2 separate regions of the Homo sapiens genome follow, and region 1 is linked to region 2. Evidence: fine-mapped expression QTL. A gene starts in region 2. The other region holds a variant in brackets. All regions are shown on one strand. Distances are from middle to middle. Region 1 has its middle 130 kb from the start of GAPVD1. Region 2 holds the start of GAPVD1 (GTPase activating protein and VPS9 domains 1).

What was found. PIP is the estimated chance that this variant, and not a neighbour inherited with it, causes the effect.
Region 1: its variant is the best candidate, but not a certain one, in a credible set for the expression of GAPVD1 in sigmoid colon (GTEx, PIP 0.55).

What each region holds. Positions count from the first base shown.
Region 1 is chr9:125,385,958-125,388,866 of GRCh38, reverse strand. No RefSeq gene overlaps it. Among named protein-coding and RNA genes, the nearest start is that of GAPVD1, 130 kb to the right of the region's middle. The variant C/G (reference allele first, on the strand shown) is at 1,567.
Region 2 is chr9:125,260,463-125,263,371 of GRCh38, reverse strand. It overlaps GAPVD1 (GTPase activating protein and VPS9 domains 1), which reads right to left and starts at 1,546. Exons shown (of 28, transcript NM_001282680.3): 1 at 1,413-1,546. RefSeq lists silencers at 1,400-1,529, 1,468-1,649.

The DNA.
Region 1 (2,909 bases), 130 kb before region 2:
GCACCCTCTGTCTGGCATGCACCTGCCCCACCACAGGGGTCCACCTGTTCCAGCCTCCCCATGCCACCTGCTGCAGGAAGTCCTCCGCAAGTCACTGGCCAGTAGTGGCCTCACCTGCCCTGCGCTTCCAGCCTGGTCTCTCACTGGGTTTGTCTGAGGCCCTGAACACATTCATCCAGGCATGTCCCAGCTGTTGGGGGCTCGGCTTATCTCCACCTTCCTCCCGCGGCCCCAGCCTTTAGCCAAATGCCCTGCAGAGAATAAGTACAGGCCACAACTCTGGCAGCAGCAAACCTCCTCCCTGACTTTTCTGTGTTCGTTGCGCCCAGCCCAGGGCCTGGCACCAAGCAGGCATCATCCCGTCCTCCATTCACCCGTCCATTTGCCAAACACACATTGAGCGCTGCTCTGTTCCAAGCTTGTGCTAATGGCTGGTCACACCCATGTTGAATAGAATAGACCCACCCCAGCATCTTAGTCAGCTGGGGAGGAGGTGCTGGGAGGGGCGAAGGCCTGGGAGGATCCTGACCCAGCCTGCAGATTGGCGGGAGGGAGACGTCAATGGGGCCAAGCCAACCTGGTGAGGCTGAGAGGCGAGTTTCCCAGAAGGCCTCCCTCTGTGCTTCCTGCATAGGAGCTTTTGAAATTGGAAGGGAAGCAGTGACCTTTGCTCTCTGAAGGTCACAGGAGGCAGCCATGGTGACAGGCAGACCCAGTGGCCTGGGGGGCTCCAGCTTGTCCTCGCCGTTCTCCACCCTGCGCTTGGTCTTCCTGACTGCTGGCCTGCTGACCAGCAGTGGCCCCAGGCCCACCCCAGAGGCTCCCCAAAGAACTCACAGAGGCAGCAGCTACACAGAGGCAATAGCTCCCAGGGGACCCTCCAGGAGCGTCCCCCACATCCCTTCTGGCAGCCAGACACACCTGGCTTCTCAGATCGCTGGGAGGTGTCAGCTCTGACCCCCCGTGTCCCCTCTGGGCCTTCACCTCCAGCTCCTCCCATAATCGTGTCAGGCCATCCCCATAATGAATCTGCATCCCATAATACCCGCAGTGGCTTTGCTTCCCTGATTGAACCCCGAGTGATACAGTGGTTGGTACTGGTGATGCTTCCAGGAGAAGAGAATCTTAAGGATGGGAACTCAGCATCAGTTCTCCAATCTCAGTGGATTTAGAGGTGTTCAGATCCTGCTGCCGGGGACTACACTGGGGCTCCATGGCACACAGTAGTGGAGCAGTTACATAACCCCTGGACCCAAGGCCCACAGAGGGCTCGGGTGACCAAGTCACTACTGGCATCAAATGTGTGGGTGGAAATAAAGGGCACAGGGACTGTGGGGTCACTTGGTTGCCTCTAAGTGCACTGGAAAACTAATGAGAAAAAGAGATGAGCTCAGGGCTTTGAATTCCCAGATCAAGGTTTTTGTTTTTTTGTTTTGTTTTGTTTTGTGTTTGTTTGTTTGTTTGTTTGTTTTGAAAGGGAGTCTTGCTCTCTCGCCCAGGCTGGAGTGCAGTGGTGCGATCTCGGCTCACCACAACCTCCGCCTCCCGGGCTCAAGCAGTTCTCCT[C/G]TCTCAGCCTCCCAAGTAGCTGGGACTACAGGTGCATGCTACCACGCCCGGGTAATTTTTGTATTTTTAGTAGAGATGGGGTTTCACCATGTTGGCCAGGCTGGCATCGAACTCCTGACCTCAGGTGATCCACCCACCTCAGCCTCCCAAAGTGCTGGGATTACAGGCATGAGCTACTGTGCTCAGCTCCCAGATCCAGTTCTGAGTGAAGAGCCAGACGTTGTCCCTGTGCCTGGAGACCCTTCAGTGCCCTGAGACCCTTTAGTGCCCCCTCCTGAGGTGGCCTCCACCTCCCATTGCCTCATCACAGGCGCGGGTTCATTATTGCTGGAGTGGGTTTCTTTTTTTTTTTTTTTTTTTTTTTTTGAGACAGAGTCTTTATCTGTCACCCAGGCTGGAGTGCAGTGGCGTGATCTCGGCTCACAGCAACCTCTGCCTCCCAGGTTCAAACAATTCTCCTGCCTCAGCCTCCCAAGTAGCTGGGATTACAGGTGTCTAACACCATGCCTGGCTAATTTTTGTAGGTTTAGTAGAGACGGGGTTTCACCATGTTGGCCAGGCTGTTCTTAAACTCTTGACCTCAGGTGATCCACCCACCTTGGCCTCCAAAAGTGCTGGGATTACAGGCATGAGCCACCATGCCTGGCCTGGAGTGGGTTTCTTATAAAAGGGTAAGTTTCCATCCTGGCTAACACAATGAAACCCCGTCTCTACTAAAAATACAAAAAATTAGCTGGGCGTGGTGGCGGGCACCTGTAGTCCCAGCTACTCAGGAGGCTGAGGCAGGAGAGTGGCGTGAACCCGGGAGGTGGAGCTTGCAGTGAGCCGAGATTGGGCCACTGCATTCCAGCCTGGGTGACAGAGCGAGACTCCGTCTCAAAAAATAATAATAATAAAAGAAGAAAGGATAAGTTTGGCTCCTTTTGCTCTCTCTTGCCCTCTCTGCACTTCTGCCATGGGATGACACAGCCAGAAGGCCCTTGCCAGATGCTGGTCCTTTGATCTTGGATTTCCCAGCCTCCAGAACCATGTGCCAATAAATTTCTGTTCTTTATAAATTACCCAGTCTATGGCATTCTGTTATAGCAGCAGAAAATGGACTCAAACAGCAGCTAAAAATTTTAACAACTTGCTAAATGTGGAGTGCGAGCTACTGTGAAGTATAGAATCTCCAGGAGCTGCAGACACAAGGAGAATTTTTACCCACTCTCAGGTTCTTCTCTAGGTACATCACCAGGTGCTCATAAGAAAGGTTGGGGCAGGGCAAGAGGTCTGAGAAAGCCTCCTGCAGTCCCTGCAAGAAAGCACGAAGCTCCACTCACTGTCTCTATTTCCATTCTCTC
Region 2 (2,909 bases):
GCTCAAGTGATTCTCTTGCCTCAGCCTCCCAAGTAGCTGGGATTACAGGCATGGGCCACCACACCCAACTAATTTTTGTATTTTTAGTAGAGATGGGGTTTCACCATGTTGGCCAGGATGGTCTCGATCTCTTGACCTCAATGATCCGCCCGCCTCGGCCTCCCAAATTATTTCAGGAGTTCTTAATCTTTTTGTGCACGGACCTCATTGGCAGTTTGGTGAAGCCTATGGTCCCTTTCTCAGATTTCTTTTAAGTGCATAATTAAATACATGTGATTACAAGGGAAACCAATTATATGGAAATATTAGCAAAACAACAAACTAATATGGTCATAATATATGTACAGCCTTATTATCACATTAAATAACAATGTCTAACGGCGGGTCTAGTAACACCAGAAATTCAAAGAAGTGTTAACCATAAATGATATTCTGAGCTATCTGCAACTGTAAACATGATGCAAAAATATCCGTAATTTTTATTGATCACAAAGTCATAGGCGCTGCTAATGCTACTCTGGCTTGTTGTCCACATTCGTAACTGAAGGAAATAATAAGTTTCAGTTAGCAGTCAATAAAAATAATGATGTCATTTTATCCTCCTTCTAGTGAAAGGACCCTTCTAATTCTATCCATCAATGAACTCCAGTTTAAAACCCCTCTCTAGTTCAAAGTCCTGCTCAGAACTGATTTTCGTCATAAATTTAAAAATAAAAACACTGATTCCTCCTTTGACCTAGTTCTCATCTGAACCTATCACTATGTCTCCCTGTTTTTATGCACATTTATACACAGAACCCTGGGTGTACTTCTGTGGTTTGCCTAGCCAGCACTCACTACAATTTTGCCAGTCAATAAAAGGTGAAGTTAAAAGAAAAGGGATGGAAACAACCAACAGCTCCCTCACTTTCAGACCTCCGACAGCAAGTGGAAAGATGCCAAGTACAGTGAGTGTCTGTGTTAGGTGGGCTGCCCCCAGACCCGTGTGTCCAGCTTGTCAAGCTTCCCTGCAGCACGATATCTTTATCAGCGACACTCAGAAGACATTCCATTTCGTTCTCGCCTCCTATACTCAGTTCCCTACCTGCCGGGCCTCTCGTCTCTGGCCCCCACCCGAGGCCGCCCCGCGGTCCTCCTGTCCCTTCCCATCCCATCCCCCACGCGTCTCTCCCTCTCCTCAGCCCCAGGCCGCCCTGGCTCCTGCGCGCCGCCACATCTCTCCCCTGGGTCTAACCCAGTGTCCCCCGACCCCCACCTCGCCCGACACTGACGGGAAGAGCCCAGGACCCCGGGGTCAGTTGGACCTGACGGCCGGGCAGTCAGAGACAGGCTGCGGCCCTAGGCCGGAGCAACCCGGCCGCGAGGCAGGGAGCCGCTCACAGCCCGCGGACTAAATCGGGACGCGTACTCACCAAGGGGGTCATGCGGGGGAGGACACGGAGGACTCTGTCGGACCGCCACTCGGCCTCGGAGCCGTCGCCCTAGCCGGTGACTGCCCCCGCCGCCGCTGCCGCCACCTTCGCCACTCGCCTGTTGGCTTCCCTGCGTCCTGCAGCGGCGCTGCCGCCACGCCAGCGCGCGTGCGCAGCGCCGCGGGGGCCTCTGGGAGCTGTAGTTCCGCCCGGGCGGCTAGGGGCTCCCACTTCCGCCTTAGGCAGCCCTAGGTCAGCTGCCCCCTGAGGCTGTCGTGGGTGTCCGGGTCCGGAATCGTCTTCCGGAAGGCTGTTCACCAGGCCTGGGCCCTGGTTTCCGCCTGCAGTAATGCTGGACGTGAAGAATCCGACTGAGCAAGTATGTGTAAAGCAAAAATGTAGAGCGTTTTATGCTTTCTGTGACAACGCTCAGTTGCCCAGGACACATTATTCGCATGAATGACTCTCTCTCTTCTCTGTTTCTCTCTCACACGTACGCACACACTACTTACAAACCTCCCTTCCCTTTTTTTTTTTTTTTCGAGACGGAGTCTGGCTCTGTCGCCCAGGCTGGAGTGCAGTGGCTCAATCTCGGCTCACTGCAAGCTCCGCCTCCCGGGTTCACGCCATTCTCCCGCCTCAGCCTCCCAAGTAGCTGGAACTACAAGCGCCCGCCACCACGCCCGGCTAATTTTTTGATTTTTAGTAGAGACGAGGTTTCACCGTGTTAGCCAGGATGGTCTCGATCTCCTGACCTCGTGATCCGCCCGCCTCGGCCTCCCAAAGTGCTGGGATTACAGGCGTGAGCCACCGCTGCCGGCCCCTCCCTTCCCTTTTGTTCTAAGTGCCATTAATTGGTTTGGATGGTATCTGGATTTTCAGTGTAAAACCTGCCTTCCCACTTCTCAGTTTCTAAAATCTTGCTTATCATAAACTTCACCATGCAGTTATTTTAGGTAAGTCAATAAATGAACTGTCTAATAATTTTTGTAACACCATAACTCATATATTCAGAGGTCAAGTTAGCTGAGTTGAACAGTCTAGAAACCTTAAAATTGGAAGATACCTGCTTAAAGGTCACTAGTGCAACTGTTGCCCAGGCAGGAATTCCCTCCTGTACATTCAGCCAGATGGTCATCTTCCTGTTCAACAGTTCAAATTTCAGGGAGCTCACTCCCTCAAGTAATGCAGCCTGCTCCACTGTTGGACAGCTCTAAATGTTAGAAAGTTCTGCCTCCTGCTGAGCTGAAATCTGTTTCCCTTTATTTCCTTCCATTGCTGGTAGTTAGGCTGCCTGGAGCAATACAGAATGTCTTCCACTTGACAGATCTTCAAAAAATTGAGAACAATGATTATATCCTCCAATACTGGGAGTCTCCAGGCAAAAAAAGGAAAAAAGTAATAATCATTTCCCCAGCTATTTCAAATGTCAATCAACTCCCAAACTGCTTTCTATCTACTCACCTCTCTTGATGTCACCTTTAGGGGCATGGTGGC